2 separate regions of the Homo sapiens genome follow, and region 2 is linked to region 1. The links come from fine-mapping of genetic effects on gene expression. Tissue or cell type: whole blood. Region 1 holds a variant in brackets; the other region holds the start of a gene. All regions are shown on one strand. Distances are between the middles of the regions. Region 1 overlaps PARP4 (poly(ADP-ribose) polymerase family member 4). Region 2 holds the start of PARP4 (poly(ADP-ribose) polymerase family member 4).

Region 1 (9,356 bases):
AGGCATGCACCACAATGCCCAGCTAATTTTTTGGTATTTTTTGTAGAGATGAGGTTTAGCCATGTTGTCCAGGCTGGTCTTGAACTCCTGGACTCAAGGGATCTACCTGCCTTGACCTCCCAAAGTGCTGGGACTATGGGCGTGAGACACTACACCTGGCCTGCCTTTTTTTTTGTTTTTTAAAGACCCTTCAGCTTAAATTTTTTTTTCTTCTTTTCTTTTTTTTTTCTTTGGTAGAGATTGGAGTTTCACTATGTTGCCCAGGCTGGTTTTGAACTCCTGTGCTCAAGTAATCCTCCTGCCTTAGCCTCTCGAGTAGCTGCGACTACAGACATGTGCTCTTCTGCCTTTTTAATGTAGAGACTGTGGGGTGTCCTCCTGAAAACACAGCATTACTTGACATACATTTAAACATACACACAAATACACAGAGGTCTTCAGACTGTCTGAAGTGTGGCTGAAGCCTGAATCCAGGTGTCTGCATTCCCTGGCTTATAGTGTGGAAGGGCTCGGTCACTATTATTTATGGTGCCACACAAGCATTTTGGGATGGCATCAAACAACGTAGATTTTCAATCCAAGGAAGACTGAATCAACTCCTATGGCAGCATATTGAAAAATGTACACATCCTATTCTAAGTGGCACAAACATACAGATAAGGTTAGGAAATATAAATACATATTGTCTTGCCAGATATTTCACTTAATGACTCCCAGAGAAAAAACTGGAGTCACCCCTGAACACACATGAACTCATGCGTTTCTGACAAAAAATAATTTGAGCATGGTCAAAAATGTTAATGTGTTCTTACAGTCCTACTAATTAATACTGTAATTGTTTGGCCTCATGATACTCTGAGAAGTGAATATCCTCTTGTATGCTCGCACTACTATGGCTAACACACGCACCACACATGGCAATTTACTCAGTGCCTTCAATTTCCCCTTCAGCCCTTACAGCAATTCTGTCATGCGGGTACTGCTCTCATTCCCATCGGAGAGAAGGTGGAGCGCAAAAGGTCATGCAGTTTCAAAACTGCAAGGTGGCAGGGCGACACTCAAACCCTGGGCTTCCTGGCTCTACAGCGGCTCTGCTGTCTGCTCTCCCCACCCCATTACACTTTCTGCACCATGACATCTTAGCAAGGTTCCACAGGTTTTAGCCTTGGCTATTCCTGAAGCGAATAAGCTCAACTTCAGTGTGTTAATGAAGTCACATGGAATTTCTCAATCATCCTAGTTGTTATGTACGCAAGATAAAAAAGGAAATGAGGCTGGCCATGGTGGCTCATATCTGTAATCCCAGCATTTTGGGATACCAAGGCAGGAGGATCGCTTAATGCCAGGAATTTCAGGCCAGCCTAAGCAACATAGTGAGAATTTGTCTCTAAAAAAAAAAGTCACGGATGGTAGTCCTAGCTACTCAGGAGGCTGAGTCAGGAGGATCATTTGAAACCCAGGAGTTTGAGGCTGCAGTGCACTTTGATCACACACTGTACTCCAGCCTGGGGGACAGAGTGAGACCCTGTCTCAAAAAAAAAGAAATATATATATTTTAAAATTAAGTGCTTTATTTTGATACTAGGCAGAGGGGTTTGACTGATGTTAACACTGAGAGAAATTTGTGGGAAACAATTTTGAGATTGAAAGGAAATGAAATACTTATGGATGAGGTCATAGATATAACAAATGCAAATATACATTCCATTGAAAATATAACATTTGAGGTCTATAAATATAATAACATAAAACAGCATTCAAGAAAATTGTCCTACCTTCAACCTTTGAAAAATTTGAAAACTCAGGTCTGTATTCCTCTAATTCAGTATGATCACTAGGATGAAAGTCCTTTATCTGATCTCCAGGCATGGAAAATTTAATAATATATTTCATTTTAACCTGATTGGTTTTATAGACAACAAATTCATCATCCTAGAGCAAACAGAAATCAGTAGGTGATTAACAACAGAAGCAACAAAAAACCTGTATTGGCAGATGTTTTCATAAAAGCATGTTTGCTAATTTAGAAAATGTTGAATTAATTCATGCAGTAAATATATAACAATTATTTAAACTTAAGCATATTTAATGAAAATAGGAGCAAAAAACTAAGGCCTTTCTTTGAGCATTCAAGACCCTCTTTGCTTCTTCCTTGAAATAAAAATACCTCAAAGTCTGTGGTGACAGAGGCTGTTTGCGAAACTCCATGCACACTGTCGTAGCCTGGTGGTGCTTCAGTTAAGGAAAAGTCCTTCTCATGTAAGTCCATACACTTTCCGAGGGCTACGTCACAAATGAGCAGGAGTCTGGTGCCATCTGTCTCTCCCGGGTGTGAGTACTTGATACTTGTACTACATGCGAAAGGAAATAAACACATATTTACAGCTTAGAGTGACTTGTCAATAACATACTATTGAAAAGACTTTCCTGGTAAACTGTTCTAAATTTTCCTATTATTGAAATATCTCCAAAGACTCAATTTAGAACTTTATTATGCACTTATTTATTTAATATTTCTTCTTTTTTTTTAGACAGAATTTTGCTCTGTTACTCAGGCTAGGGTGCAGTGGCATGATCATAGCTTATTGCAGTCTCCAACTCCTGGGCTCAACTGATCCTCCTGCCTCAGCCTCCTGAGTAGCTGGGACTATAGATGTGCACCACACCTAGCTAACTTTTAAAATTTTCTGCTAAGATGGGGTCTCACTATGTTTCCCAGGCTGGTCTCGAACTCCTGGGCTCAAGTGATCCTCCCTCCTCAGCCTCCCAAAGTGCTGGGATTACAGGCATGAGCAACCATGCCTGGCCTATTTCGCATTTCTATGTGACAAATATGTATACTGCCCTTATGTTGTGCTAGGCAGTGCTCAAAGCACTTTGTTTCCAGAGAGAAATGAATTCTACTGTTCTCCTAAATCTTTGTTAGCTACTAAAATATACACATTTTACTATCATAAATACCAGGGTGGTAAAGAGAAGGAAAAATCACCACCTTATTAATTAGGAAAAAGTAGATTTAATTCTCTGCACTAAAGCTCAGAAAGGAATAAGAACCGTGGGTACCAAGTGAGTAAGAACTGGTCAAAGGGAAAGACAAGCTCTCACAAAGCCTCCTGAAAGGAAAAACAAACATTTCAAATTATATCCAAATGAGAAATGTTGTTTTATCTTTCTTTGGGAATCAGCAGCTTTAATAAGGCAACTCTTGCTATTAGGAGCACAGACTAGGACACACCTTTGGACACAACATTTTGGAGACGCATGTCTGTTTTTTAAAGATTAAGTTCAAAATGCCGAAGTATGGCCAGACGACCCTTCTTTGTTTCACCTACTGAAAAAAAAAATCAGTTCCCCCATTCCTTCTAAAATCCTCTCCCCTTTGGAGGGCTCTTTTCCTGCAACTTACAAGCATGCTTTCTTCCTTCTCATTAAACCCCACTCTGGACTTCTCCCTGGAGCTCTCTCTATTCCTTCCTATCTCACCACGTTCTGGCAAAGGGGGCCCAGCTGGGCTCCTGAGTCTGGTGGGGACGTGGAGAACCTTTATGTCTAGCTCAGGGATTGTAAACACACCAATCAGCACCCTGTGTCTAGCTCAGGGTTTGTGAGTGCACCAATTGACACTCTGTATCTAGCTACTCTGGTGGGGCCTTGGAGAACCTTTGTGTGGACACTCTGTGTCTAGCTAATCTGGTGGGGAGGTGGAGAACCTTTGTGTCTAGCTCAGGGATTGTAAACGCACCAATCAGCGCCCTGTCAAAACAGACCACCCTACTCTACCAATCAGCAGGATGTGGGTGGTGCCAGATAAGAGAATAAAAGCAGGCTGCCCCAGCCAGCAGTGGCAACCCGCTCTGGTCCTCTTCCGCACTGTGGAAGCTTTGTTCTTTCGCTCTTTGCAATAAATCTTGCTACTGCTCACTCTTTGGGTCCACACTGCCTTTATGAGCTGTAACACTCACCACGAAGGTCTGCAGCTTCACTCCTGAAGCCCGCGAGACCACGAGCCCACCGGGAGGAACGAACAACTCCAGATGCGCCGCCTTAAGAGCTGTAACACTCACTGCGAAGGTCTGCAGCTTCACTCCTGAGCCAGCGAGACCACGAACCCACCAG[A/G]AGGAAGAAACTCCGAACACATCTGAACATCAGAAGGAACAAACTCTGGACACGCCGCCTTTAGGAACTGTAACACTCACCGCGAGGGTCCGCGGCTTCATTCTTGAAGTCAGTGAGACCAAGAACCCACCAATTCTGGATGCATTACTATTGCAATTGTTTTGGGCTGCAACAATCTGTGCCCATACAAGGTGGTGGGCTTGGCAAATGTTTTGTGTGTTCTGACTGCTCCACTGACCAGTGGTTCCCTCATCTCTCTCCTCCTTCTCTGGCCTCCCTATTCCCTGAGATACAACAATATTGAAATTAGGCCAATTAATAATAACCCTACAGCGGCCTCTAAGTGTTCAAGTGAAAGAAAGGGTTGTACATCTTTCACTTTAAATTAAAAGCTAGAAATGATTAGGCTTGGTGAGGAAGGCATGTTGAAAACCAAGACAGGCTGAAAGCTAGGCCTCTTGTGGCAGTTATCCAAGTGGTGAATGTAAAGAAACAATTTTTGAAGGAAATTAAAAGTGCTGCTCCAGTGAACATAGGAATGATAACAAAGCAAAACAGCCTTATTGCTGATATGAAGAAAATGTTAATGGTCTGGATAGAAGATCAAACCAGCCACAGCATTCTCTTAAGCCAAAGCCTAATCCAGAGCAAGGCCCCAACTCTGTTCAATTCTATGAAGGCTCAGAGAGGTGAGGAAACTGCAGAAAGAAGGCCTGAAGCTAGCAGAGGTTGGCTGAGGTTTAAGGAAAGAAGCCATCTCTATAACGTAACAATGGAAGATGAACCAGCCAGTGCTGATGTAGAAGCTGCAGCAAGTTCTCCAGAAGATCTAGCTAAGATCATTGATGCAGGTGGCTTCACCACACAACAGATTTTCCATGTAGACAAAACAGCCTTCTATTGGAAGAAAATGCCATCTAGGACTTCCACAGCCGGAGAGAAGTCAATGGCTGGCTGCAAAGCTTCAGACGACAGGCTGACTCTTGTCAGGGGCTAATGCAGCTGGTGACTATAAGCTGAAGCCAGTGCTCACTTACCATTCCAAAAATCCTAGGGCCCTTAAGAATTGCGCTAAATCTACTCTTTCTGTGCTCTACAAATGGAACGACAAAACCTGGATGACAGCACATCTGTTTACAGAATGGTTTACTGAATTTTAAGCCCAATGTATAGATCTACTGCTCAACAAAAAAGGTTCTTTTCAAAATATGACTGCTCACTGGCAAAGCGCCTAGCCATCCAGGAGCTCTGATGGAGAGGTACAAGGAATTTGTTGTTTTCATGCCTGCTAACACAACTTACAATCTGCAGCCATGGATCAAGGAGTAATTTCAGCTTTCAAGTCTTATTATTTAAGAAATACATTTTGGGCTGGGCGTGGTGGCTCATGCCTATAATCCCAGCACTTTGGGAGGCCAAGGCAGGCAGATCACCTGAGGTCAGGAGTTCGAGACCAGCCTGCCCAATATGATGAAACCCTATCTCTACTAAAAATACAAAAATTAGCCAGGCGTGGTGGCATGCGCCTGTAATCCCAGCTACTCAAGAGGCTGAGACAGAAGAATCGCTTGAACCCAGGAGGCGGAGGTTGCAGTGAGCCAAGATCACACCATTGCACTCCAGCCTGGGCAACAAGAGCAAACTCCATCTCAAAAAAGAAAAAAAGAAAGAAAGAAATACATTTTGGCCAGGTATGCCTGTAATCCCAGGAGTCTGAGGTGGGATGATCACTTGAGTTCAGCAGTTTGAGGTTCCAGGGAGCTATGGCTATGGTTGCATCTTACTGTACTCTCACCTGGGCAATAATGGATCAAGACCCCAACTCTAAAAAGAAAAAAATACATTTTGTAAGGCTATAGCTGCCATAGACAGTGATTCCTCTGATGGATCTGGACGAAGTAAATTGAAAACCTTCTGGAAAGGATTTGCTATTCTCCTTGCCCTTAAGAGCATTTGATGAATTATGGGAGGAGGTCAGCCTATCAGTATTAACAGGGGTTTGGAAGAAGTTTACTCTAACTATCTTGGGTGACTTTGAGGGGTTCAAACTTCAGTGAAGAAAGTCACTGTAGATGTGGCAGAAGCAGCAGGAGAACTAGAATTACAATTGGAGCCTGAAGATGGGACTGAATTGCTGCAATCTCATGATCAAACTTGAAAGAATGAGGAGTTGCTTCTTATGAGTGAAGAAAGTGGTTTCTTGAGATGGAATCCATTCCTGGTGAAGATGTTGTGAACACTGTTGAACTGACAACAAAGGATTTTGAATATCACATAAACTTAGTGGACAAAGCAGCAGCAGTGTTTGAGATAATTGACTCCAATTTTCAAGGAAGTTCTACTTTAGGTAAATGCTATCAAATAGCATCTCATACTACAGATAAATCTTTCATGAAAGGAAGAGTCAATTGCTGAGGCAAACTTCATTGTTGTCTTATTTTAAGAAATTGCCACAGCCACCTCAACTTTCAGCAACCACCACCCTAATCAGTCAGCAGCCATAGACATTGACACGAGACCTTCCACCGGCAAAAAGACAATGGCTCACTGAAGGCTTAGATGATCGTTAGGATTTTTAGTAATAAAGTAAGTTAAAATTAAGGTTATGTACATTGTTTTTTTTTTAAACACAATGCTATTGCACACTTTAATAGACTAGAGTGTAAACCTCTTATACTCATTGGGAAACCAAAAATGTGTGTGACTCACTTTATTGCAGTATTTGCTATATTGCAGTAGTGTGGAACCAAACCCTCAATATCTCCAAGGTATGCCTGTATAAGGAATCATCTAATAACTTTTCATCCACTAAGGTCCTAAGGCTCATCCATTTGACATGTGTAGCCACAGTCCACTTGTTTCAACTGAAGGACAGGACTTCATGTAGGACTCCACCAAAATGTACGGATCCATTCCACTGTCGATGGACATCTGCATGATTTCCAGTGTTCTGTTACTACAGTGCTCTTTTTTTCTTCTTTTCTTTTTTTTTTTTAAGAGATTGGGTCTCGCTTTGTCTCCCAAGCTGGATGTAGTGGTTCAGTCATACCTCACTGTGGCCTTGGACTGCTGGGCTCAAGCAGTCCTCCTGCCTCAGCCTCCTGAGTAGCTTTGATTACAGGTGTGTGACACAATGCCTGGCTAATTTTAAAAAGTTTTTTTTGGCCGGGCGCGGTGGCTCACGCCTGTAATCCCAGCACTTTGGGAGGCCGAGGCGGGTGGATCATGAGGTCAGGAGATCGAGACCATCCTGGCTAACAAGGTGAAACCCCGTCTCTACTAAAAATACAAAAAATTAGCCAGGCGCGGTGGTGGGCACCTGTAATCCCAGCTACTCGGGAGGCTGAGGCAGGAGAATGGCGTGAACCCGGGAAGCGGAGCTTGCAGTGAGCCGAGATTGTGCCACTGCAGTCCGCAGTCCGGCCTGGGCGACAGAGCGAGACTCCGTCTCAAAAAAAAAAAAAAAAAGTTTTTTTTAGAGATGGGGTCTTGTTGTGTTGCCTAGGCTAATCTCAACCTCCTGGACTCAAGCAATCTTTCTGCCTCAAACTCCTGAGTAGCTGGGACTACAGGTGTGTGCCACTGCACTCAGCTCATTTTTTGAGACAGAATCTTGCTCTTGTCACCCAGGCTGGAGTGCAGTGGCACCATCTCAGCTCACTGCAATCTCTGCCTCCTAGGTTCAAGCCAGTCTCCTGCCTCACCCTCTTGAGTAGCTGGGACTACAGGTGCACACCACCACGCCCAGCTAATTTTTGTATTTTTATTAGAGATGGGGTTTCGCCACATTGGCCAGGCTGGTCTCGAACTCCTGGCCTCAAGTGATCTACCTGCCTTGGCCTCCCAAAGTGCTGGGATTACAGGCATGAGCTACTGCGCCTGGCCCCAGCTCGTCTTCTTTGCTATTAGGTTTCTATTTAAGTCTTTTGCACATCTGCTTATAGGATTGTTTATCTTTTCCTTATTGATTTGTAGGAACTCTTTAAATATCTTGGATCATTATCCTTTGTCCTGGGCCTGAACTCAGTCTCCATCCTTTAATTAGCTCTGCAACCTTAGGCAAGTTCCCTGACCTCCCTGAGTCTGTTTCCTTGCATTAAATGATGTCACAATACCAATTATGAGGTTGGCAGATGATGTACATGGGGTTCTTCTCACTGTGTTGCCCAAGCTGGACTGCAGTGACATAATCATAGCTCACTCCAGCCTTGAATTCCTGGACTCAAGTGATCCTCCTGCCTCAGCCTCCCCAGTAGCTAGAACTATAGGTTCTATTAGCGCCACCATGCACGGCTAATTTTTTAATTTTTTTGTAGAGATAGGGTCTTGCTATGCTGCATAGGCTGGTCTTAAACTCCTGGGCTCAAGTGATCCTCCCACCCTGGCCTCCAAAAGAGCTGGGAGTACAGGCACGAGCCACCATGTCTGGCATAAGGGCAGATTTAAACATTATCAAGGATGCTGAAGATGAAATAGTATTCCAGCCACATTGAGGTCATATATAATAGATAAATCTGTGTTTTGGTTGAGAAACTCCCTCACCAAGGAAAGACAGAAGAAAATACACAGCAAGTATTCAGTAACGATTCTGTGATTAAGGATCGAACATACCTGAGCGAATCACTGAAATAAATCCCACTTCCAAGGTTTCCGACGTCTGTTCTTTGCACACCACGATCTTCCACTACTTTGGGTAAAAGCAACCCTCTGAAAAGAGAAGGGCAGGATAAGGTGTAAGCCCAACACTGACTGCATCTCTTCCTTGCTCAGAATTTTGGCAGGTTCCTACTGAACTTCTGGCATTCAGAGAACTCTGCAATCAGGGTGAAGCCATGGTTGTTTCCGGAAACACAAGGGAAATTTCTGCCTTTTATTATATAAACATCTATTGTTTGAATTTCACATTAGGAGATTGAATGAATTTTGTAAAATAGCTTTTGGGTTTTGGTCCTACTTAGAAAGCTCATCCCTACTTAAAGATTATTTTAAGAAGATTCTCCCATTTTTCATTTAGTATACTTTTATGGTTTGATTTTAAATATTTAAATATTTGCTCTGTCTGGAGTTAAAGTATGAGAAATGAGGTAAAGGTCCAACTTTGTATTTTTTCCTTGTGGTTACCCATTTATCTCTATAGATAGTATTGAAGAACTTGTCTTTCTTCCACAGAGATAAGATCTACTTGTATCATATCCTAAATCTTCTGTGTTTTTGGGTTCATTTGTGTTTAATATTAATGT
Region 2 (9,356 bases), 32 kb after region 1:
CACATGCTGTTATATATTATAGTTCTTATCTCTGGGACCCCCAGCCCTTCCTCACCCCATGCTGTATCCCCCATCCAGGACACAATGAATGAACACATTAGGGATTCATATTTTTTAATCTTTCTTTTGAGGTCCGGTTAAACTGAAGTCTCTTGATGTAATTCTGCCTTTCCATAACATTAGCATGGAAAAGTTTCATTTGTTGACTGCCTCTCACATTCAATTAGCATCTGTGCATAGATAGGAGGGATGAAATGAGGGGTACCATAAAAGAGATTACACCACACTATTTAGGTTAATCTATGCTAGTCGTAATCTCTGACAATTAAAAACAACACACAAAAAAAAACACTAAAAGCCTTTAATGACTCTTTAATAATTTCCAGGACAGCCTCTATGTGATAATTGCACCCCCACTTATGCTGACCAAGGTTGGCTGACATGGAGTGGCTGCTCAAGTCCACCTTCAGATGGGTCCTGGATGTGTTAAATCCTCTGACCTGTTTAAAACGTGTTTCCTGGAAAAGTGACTCATGGTCACTGTTGAAAATTTGAAAAATACAGAATTGTATAACAGAAAAAAAAAGAACAAAACAAAAAAATCTCAAAACCTAGGGCTATGTTAGCATCTTGTTTTGCATTTTTCTTCTGGGCTTTTTTCTAGGTCTATTATAACACTTTGTTTTTTGAGACAGTCTCGCTTTTGTCACTTAGGCGGAAGTGCAGTGGTGAGACCTCGGCTCACGGCACCCTCCGCCTCCCGGGTTCAAACGATTCTCCTGCATCAGCCTCCCGAGTAGCTGGGATTATAGGTGCCTGCCACCATGCCTGGCTACTTTTTGTATTTTTAGTAGAGACGGGGTTTCACCATGTTGGCCAGGCTGGTCTCGAACTCCCAACCTTAAGTGATCTGCACACCTTGGCCTCCCTAAGTGCTGGGATTACAGGCATGAGTCACCGCACCCAGCCACAGACTGTATTTTTTATCAAAATTGACATCACACTACCTATCCCGCTGTTATCAGTCAGCATCTTTAGCATTTTGTCATTAAATATTATTGGAAAACATTTTTAATAGAGACTATCAGATATGGACCATAAATGAATTATTGTTGGAAAATTAAATCATTTCTGATTTTTGGTATCATAAAAAGCTATGATGAACATCCTTATGTGCAAATCCTTGTTTCCATCTCCAACAATCATCTTAGAAAATAATACTCAACTAGAACTACTGAATCAAAGTTTGAACAATTTTTTTGTGTTAAAAGTTAATCACTAAGAAGAAAAAATAAAAAGCACCTAAAATGATGGAAATGCTCAAAACTAGACTGCAGTGATGGTGCACAACTTGGTAAATTATTAAAAATTATTGAATTAGGCCAGGCAATGTGGCTCATGCCTGTAACCCTAGCACTTTGGGAGACCAAGTGGAGCAAATCGCTTGAGCCCAGGAGTTTGAGAGCAGCCTGGCCAACATGGCGAAACTTCATCTCTACAAAAAATACAAAACTTAGCTGGGCAAGGTGGTACATGCCTATGGTCCCAGCTACTCAGGAGACTTAGGTGGGAGGATCACTTGAGCCTGGGAGGTCAAGGCTGCAGTGAGCTGTGATCATGCCACTGCACTCCAGCCTGGGTGACAAGAGACCCTATCTCAAAAAAAAAAAAAGAGAGAAAAATTACTAAATTGTACAATTAAAATGAATGAATTTAATGTATGTAAATTGTACCCCAATACATTTTTTAAATAGTATTTTTTGGATACATAATAGTTACATACATATTATGGGTCAATAAAGTTATTTTTAAAAAAGCACCTGATCCCTCCATCCAGAAATAACCCCACTGTTGATTTTTATTTGTTTGTTTTTTGAGCCAGTCTCGCTCTGTCACCCAGGCTGGAGTGCAGTGGCATGATCTCAGCTCACTGCAACCTTCTGCCTCCCAGGTTCAAGTAATTCTCGTGCCTCAGCCTCCAAGTAGCTGGGACTACAGGCACGCACCACCACGCCCAGCTAATTTTTGTATTTTTAGTAGAGACGGGGTTTCACCATGTTGGCCAGGCTGGTCTCGAATTCCTGAGCTCAAGTGATCTGCCCACCTCTGCCTCCCAAAGTGCTAGGATTACAGGCATGAGCCACCACACCTAGCCCCCACTGTTGATATTTTAATTTTTTTGGTGTTATTATTTCTTGTATCATTGTATTTTCTAAATTATTAATATTCTATATTTAATGTTATAGCCAGTTGCTCTTTACTTTTTAAATAGGACTTTCACTTTCACAGCTTATTTAGCTTTTAGTGATATCCTCCCCATGTCACTAAATATTCTTTGAAGGTGTTTTTAGTGGTTACATAAGCTTTGCGTTTATTTCATCCTTCCCCAAGTCATCAGATACTTGGTTACTTAAAAGTGTTCACTATTGGCCGGGCGCGGTGGCTCACACCTGTAATCCCAGCATTTTGGGAGGCCGAGGCGGGCGGATCACGAGGTCAGGAGATCGAGGCCATCCCGGCTAAAACGGTGAAACCCCGTCTCTACTAAAAATACAAAAAATTAGCCGGGCGTAGTGGCGGGTGCCTGTAGTCCCAGCTACTTGGGAGGCTGAGGCAGGGGAATGGCGTGAACCCGGGAGGCGGAGCTTGCAGTGAGCGGAGATCCCGCCACTGCACTCCAGCCTGGGCGACAGAGCGAGACTCCGTCTCAAAAAAAAAAAAAAAAAAGTGTTCACTATTAGAAATACACTTTAATTAAAATGCTTGTACATATATTTTTTTGCCACATCTCTGTCATAGTTTCCCTAGAGTTGATGGCCAGAAATGGAATTACTGAATCAAGGAGTATAAACATTTTTTAGCCTTTTAAAAATTGTGGTACAGTTTTTAAAACTGTGTGTACAGTTCAGTGGCATTAAGTACATACACATAGTTGTGAAATCAAAGTATAAACATTTTATTTTATTTGAGACAGGGTCTGGCTCTGTCTCCCAAGCTGGAGTGCAGTGGTGTGGTCACTGTCACAGCTCACTGCAACCTCGACCTCCCTCCCAGCAATCCTTTCACCCGGCCTACTTAGTAGCTGGGACCACAGGCCTGCACCACCATGCCCAGCTAATTTTGGTAGAGACAGGGTTCTTACTATGTTGCCAAGGCTGGTCACAAACTCCTGGGCTCAAGCCATCCTCCTGCCTCAGCCTCCCAGAGTGCTGGGGTTACAGGTGTGAGCTGCCACGCCCGGCCCAGAGTAAAAACATTTTAAACATAAATCTGCGGTCTGTTCTTAGCACCTGCGGCTGCGTGGGAGGTATGGAAAGGCGCACTTTGGGTTTCGTGAAATCTCAAGTCAGGTCTTGACTTCTCTCTTTCCACAGATTCATCTCTAGTCTCTGTAAAATGCCAGCCCTCTTCTGGGTTAACAGCGCCTAACCGACATGCGCCACTAGTTCTTCCTTGTTTCAAAGTGTTCTCTAAACACAGAGTTAGTTCATGTTTTCATCAGCGCTGATTACGTACATATGAGATGTGGCGGACACTGGGCTAGGGGCTGGTTATTCTCTAAGGCAAATCTGCACAGTCACTCCAGCCTGTCCCCCTTCCCAGCTTCTTCCCCAAATAACATTCACAGAGTGTCTTCCACCCAAAGACAGCAGGGAACAGCCCCGATTCCTAAGAAACCCTCAGCGCGCCTCCTCACAAACTCTTGGCTGCTCCATAAACCATTGGTGTAGGTGGAATCAAGTGGCTTCCTGCTTCACAGGTCTTCGTCTTTACCACTGGCATTTCCTCCTCTCGGAAAACCCTGAGGAGTCCCTTTCTGGGCAGTCTTGATTCTACAGCCTCCGCCTTCCGAAGTGTGTGAGTCAGCACACGCTAAGATCACTTTTGATATACAGTGGGCATTCAATAAAAGCTTGCTTACTAAAAACTCTCACGTATCCATTAAAGCCCAGGATTACAGAAAAGCCTTCTGACACTATTTGCATTTTGGACTCAAATGGCATCAGTAATGCACCTCCCTAATGGGTTTATTAAACCCTTAAACAACAAAGGTACTACTTTTATTTCACTCCTACATGATATACAGTAGCTCTACGCACACAAACAAGACCTAATGTTTACTTAATAAATGATAAAGTCAGATGTAATGAGTCTGCAACACGCACATCTCAGAGCGAACTTCCCCTTTATCATAGCACTATGCTTGGATATTGTCATATAATTGTTGTCATCCAGCAGTCCAGAATTGAAAGTGCTTGGGCTTGAATATTTAGCAGCGCCTTAGTTTTCTAGAACCTGTGATCTACCAACTCGATCCCTGGGTGAACCATTCGGCCCTCCTAGCAGGAATTACTTAACTGAGTTAGAGGTTTTCAACTTTGGACCTCAACAAACACATTGTTTCTATCACGGTGTTCCCAATGACTCACGAGGTCAGATAGTACTTCCTGATTACTCACCAAACCACCTTACTTTTTGCACAATTCGAAACCTAACTTTAGGAAAGAAGGCCGTTTGGCATACTGGAAACAAGAAACAACGCGTGCTACTGCGAACCGCACCGCACGGGGTGCGGAGACTTGGTGTGACTGTCGGCTCCGGTGGGCGCCCCCCACCGCACCCGGTTTCTCGTCACCAGGGCTGCGCCGCGGGGCAGAGCGGAACGACCGCAATATCCCTCCCCGAGGGCGCTGGCTGCACTAGCTAGTCCACTCCCGAGCCTAGCAGCGCCGTCAGGCCCACAGCGCCAACGCCGCGCAGGGCAAGGGTGCAGCCACTGGCGGGAAAGTAGTACGCGGGCCACTTCCTGGCTAGGACTACAGGGACCTTTGCAGCCCCCCACCCCGCAGCGCCCACGCACCTGCCTAGAGGATCCAGCTAGCTCCGGACGCTCCCCGATTCCGCGCTCCTTGCTCGCGGTACTTCCGTAATCTAGGCTCTCCCTGCCCCCGGGGCTGGGCGGGCGCCACTGCGCCGGAACCCCGCCCCGCACCAGGCGGGCGCAGCGTCCCAAGCAGGGACGATAGCCGGAACGCGCCCGGAATCGGGTCCGCCAGGTGGGGAGCGGGTCCCCGGCCTCTGGCGGGGTTTCTCTTCCAAGATCAGCCGGAGGGTTCAGGGCTTTCAGTTTCATATTTCAGGAGGGATTTTGTCAATGAGGATTAATACAAAGCTCGGCTTTGAGAGAGGTGGGTGGATGGTGCTGTCCTTTAACTGAGAAATGGAAGGGATTCACAAGGCCGGGAAAGAAGAAAATTTCGGGAAAGTTCGTGGAAACAGGAGAGTGAGATAATAAATTTACTTTAAGCCTTCCTGCGTTTGAAATTCGTGACAGTGTAACTAGTTGGAAATATATTTATCTGCCATTCAAGAGAGGCAGGGGGCTGGAGATACAGATCTGAGATTCACTGAAATGGGAATAAAGCAATGGGGAAGATTCAGATTTTTAGGATACTGAATAAAATGAGAATAGAAAGGATAGAGTAGAGAATACAGTGGAAAGGGTATGGGGTTGAATCCTGACTCCACAATTTATTACCAAGGGGGCTGGGGACAAGGTAATTTACCAAGTTTCATCATTACAACCTACTCTATAGGGTTGTCTAAGAAACAACAAGAGATTCTGGGGGAGGAGAGAGACTGATTCCTAGAGTTACCACATCGTAATGCTCAAAATGTCCAATCTTCAACAAAAAATTATGAGGCATGCAAAAAAAAAGGCGAAAAAATGGCCAATTCAAAGGAAAAAAGAAATGAACAGAAATTGTCCCTGAGCTGAGGAAGCACAGACATAGGAATTATTAGACAAATACTTCAAATAAACTGTCTTAAACATGGACAAAAAGTGAAAGGAAACATAGAAAAATAACTGAAAGAAACAACCAGGAGAACAAAGTCTCAATAAATAGAGAATATGCAATAGAAGATGTGCAAATGGTCAACAAGCATGAAAAAAAGCCCAGCATAACTAATTATCAGAAAAGTGCAAATTAAAACTGCAATGAGATACCATCTTACACCAGTCAGAATGGTTATTATTAAAAAGTCAAGGAACAACAGATGCTGGCAAGGCTTTATTGAAAAGGAAATGCTTATACACTGTCAGTGGGAATGTAAATTAGTTGAACCACTGTGGAAACCAGTTTGAAGATTTCTCAAAGTGCTGAAAACAGAACTGCTATTCAACCCAGCTATCCCATTACTGGGTACATATTCAAAACAAGAGAACTCATTCTACCAAAAAGACACATGCACTAGTATGTTCGTCACAGCACGCTTCACAATAGGAAAGACATGGAATGAACTTAGGTGCTCATCGACAATGGACTGGATAAAGAAAATGTGGTACATTTGCACCATGGAATACTACGAAGCCATAAAAAGAATGAATGGAATCATGTCCTTCACAGCAACGTGACTGCAACTGGAGGCCATTGTCGTAAGTGAATTAATGAAGGAACAGAAAACCAAATACCACATGTTCTAATTTGTAAGTGGGAGCTAAACACTGGGTACTCATGGATATAAAGATGGCAACAATAGACACTGGGGACAACTAGACAGGGAGGGAGGGGGAGGGGCAAGGGTTGAAAAACTATTGGGTACTATGCTCAGTCCCCGGGTGAGGGGCTCAGTCATACCCCAAACCTCAGCACCACGAATTATATGTAGGTAACAAGCCTGCACATGTACCCTCTGAATCTAAAATAAAAGTTGAAATTATTTAAAAAACAAATAAGGAATATTAATAAAGAGATAGAAATTATAAAAGGAACCAAACACATTTTGGAACTGAAAAGAACCAAAAAGAAATTGTGTAGTTAAAAAGTACAATAGGACCAGGCATGGTGGTTCATGCCTGTAATCCTAGTGTCTTGGGAGGCCAAGGCGGGAGGATCGCTTGAGACCAAGAGTTTGCCTTGGCAACATAGGGAGATCCCCTCTCTACAAAAAAATTACAAAATTAACCGGGCATGGTGGTGCATGCCTGTGGCCCTAGCTACTCAGGAGGCTAAGGCAGGAGGATCACTTGAGCCAAGAAGTTCATGGCTGCAGTGAGCTAAGATCACACTCCTGCACTCCAGCCTGGGTGACAGAGCAATATCTTGTCTCAAAAAAAAAAAAAAGAAGAAGAAAAGAAAAAGAAAAAAATACAATAACTTAAATGAAAAATACACAAGTGATGCTCCAGAGTAGATTTGAGCAGGTAAGAGAAGGAATGAGCAAACTCGAAGATAAAACTGTTGAAATTATTAACTCTGAGGAGCAGAAAGTAGAAGAATGAAGATCAAAGTCCAAAAGATTTGTGGACACCATCAAGTGTATCAGCATATGCATAAAGGGGGTCCCAGAAAGAAAGATGAGGGTGAAGGTGGCAGGAAGAGTATCTGAAGAAACAGTGGCTCCAAAGTCCCCAATTTGTTAAAATACATAATGTAACACTTCAGAGAAGCTCCATGAACTTCAAGTATGATAAACTCAAAAAGTCCACAATAGAGTTATATTAATAATCAAACTGTTGAAAGCCAAAGACAGAGAGAAGCTTAAAAGCAGCTAGACAGAAATGATCACTACATACAAAGGAACTTGAATAAGATTAACAGCCAATCTATTACCATGGGAGCCAGAAGGCAGTGGGATGATATAAAGTGCTGAAAGAAAACAAACAAACCGGCAACCATGAATTCTATATCTGTTAAAACTCTCCTCCAAGAAATGATAGGCCAGGCACGGTGACTCATGCCTGTAATCCTGGCACTTTGGGAGGCTGAGGCAGGTGGATTGCTTGAGCCCAGGAGTTCAAGACCAGCCTGGGCAACATGGTGAAAACCCATCTCTACAAAAAATGCAAAAATTAGCCAGGTATGGTGGCATGTGCCTGTCATCTCAGCTACCTAGGAGGCTGAGGCAGGAGGAACACTTGAGACCTGGAGGTTGAGGCTACAGTGAGTTGTAATTGTGCCACTGCCCTCCAGCCTGGGTGATAGAGTCATCCCATCTAAAAAAAATGTGTAATAAAAACCTATAGAATGCTTGAAGAACCATCCAACTACTATATAATTATTGCTATTTTTGAAGAAAGCAAAAATACAGGTGTGACAACTATTATGGTATTGTTCTGCTCTTATTACAACAAAGATTCAAGCTAGAAATCCTTTACTATCTATTCAACTTCATTCATCATTGGTCAGGCATTCTAGAATGTAGTGGATGTGATAATCCCTTTGCTGTATAGACTCATTAGGTTTCCAGGATGTTTTGTTGTAAGTCCAATGCACCAGCAATAGATTTACCTATATCAAACTGCCAAGATTTAAAAAATGTCTCTCAGCACCCAAGGTTGTTGTTAGAAACTTTCCAGAAGTAATTCTGGAAATCTGAGGTTTCAGGCCTTGGTGAAGAACTCCTTCACTCTTCCTGCAGGTGAAGGAGGATGTGGGTTTTCTTGGGTTTGCCTAGAGGCCAGACACATGCATCTCTCAGTGCATCTTCCCAACCTGTTAGAATTCCCCTTTCTGGCCTGGAAGACATGGGCTTGGGGATCATCCCTTGGCCAGGCTAGCACTTATGTTCTCTCTTTTTTCTTTTTAAGAGTTGGGGGTTTCACTCTGTCGCCCAGGCTGCAGTCTAGTGGTGTGATCATAACCTTAAACTCCTGGGCTCAAGTGATCCTCCTGCCTGAGCCTCCCAAGTAGCTAGGGCTACAGGTGCATGCCACCATGCCTGGCTAACATTCAAACTTCTGGGCGCGAATGATCCACTTCAGTGTTTCAAAGTGCTGGGATTACAGGTGTAAGCCACTGCACCTGACATGTCCTCTCTGGACAGAGTGGACACTTGCTACCATCAGACCAACAATGAAAAGTTGTGAACTCTTGGCTGGGTGTGGTGGCTCATGCTTGTAATCCCAGCACTTTGGGAGGCTGAGGCGGTGGATCACTGGAGGTCAGGAGTTTGACACCAGCCTAGCCAACATGGTAAAACCCCATCTCTACTAAAAATACAAAAATTAGCTGGGCATGGTGGTGCACATCTGTAGTCCCAGCTATTCAGGTGGCTGAGGCAGGAGAATCACTTGAACTGGGGAGGTGGTGGTTGCAGTGAGCTGAGATCATGCCAGAAGGAAAAGTCAGCCTGTATTCCATCAACCAATGATACCAAAATTTTAAGGATAATCTAAAGGGCGGGTTTTGATAACTAGGGAACAGCTCAGATCATTCGCATCACTGTCTGTGTGGGTGCTCCAGGTCTAATGTGCTGATTGCAGGGCTGCAGAGTTGACTCCTGCATGTTCTCACACGTGGAATAGGAGTTAGGCAGCTGCAGCTCTGCCGTGCCCACACTGTCTGCACAGA

Evidence for each region.
Region 2: it holds the start of PARP4, and the variant in region 1 is fine-mapped to the expression of PARP4 in whole blood (TOPMed, PIP above 0.99). The same link has a PIP of 0.9 or more in lung and tibial artery.

Annotation. Positions count from the first base shown.
Region 1 is chr13:24,475,926-24,485,281 of GRCh38, forward strand. PARP4 (poly(ADP-ribose) polymerase family member 4) reads right to left here. Exons shown (of 34, transcript NM_006437.4): 12 at 8,728-8,823; 13 at 2,168-2,351; 14 at 1,776-1,932. Among named protein-coding and RNA genes, the nearest start is that of PARP4, 32 kb to the right of the region's middle. The variant A/G (reference allele first, on the strand shown) is at 4,117.
Region 2 is chr13:24,507,845-24,517,200 of GRCh38, forward strand. PARP4 (poly(ADP-ribose) polymerase family member 4) reads right to left here and starts at 4,934. Exons shown (of 34, transcript NM_006437.4): 1 at 4,862-4,934. All of the region lies in intron 1 of LOC105370117 (a long non-coding RNA gene), which reads left to right. RefSeq lists a silencer at 4,932-5,091.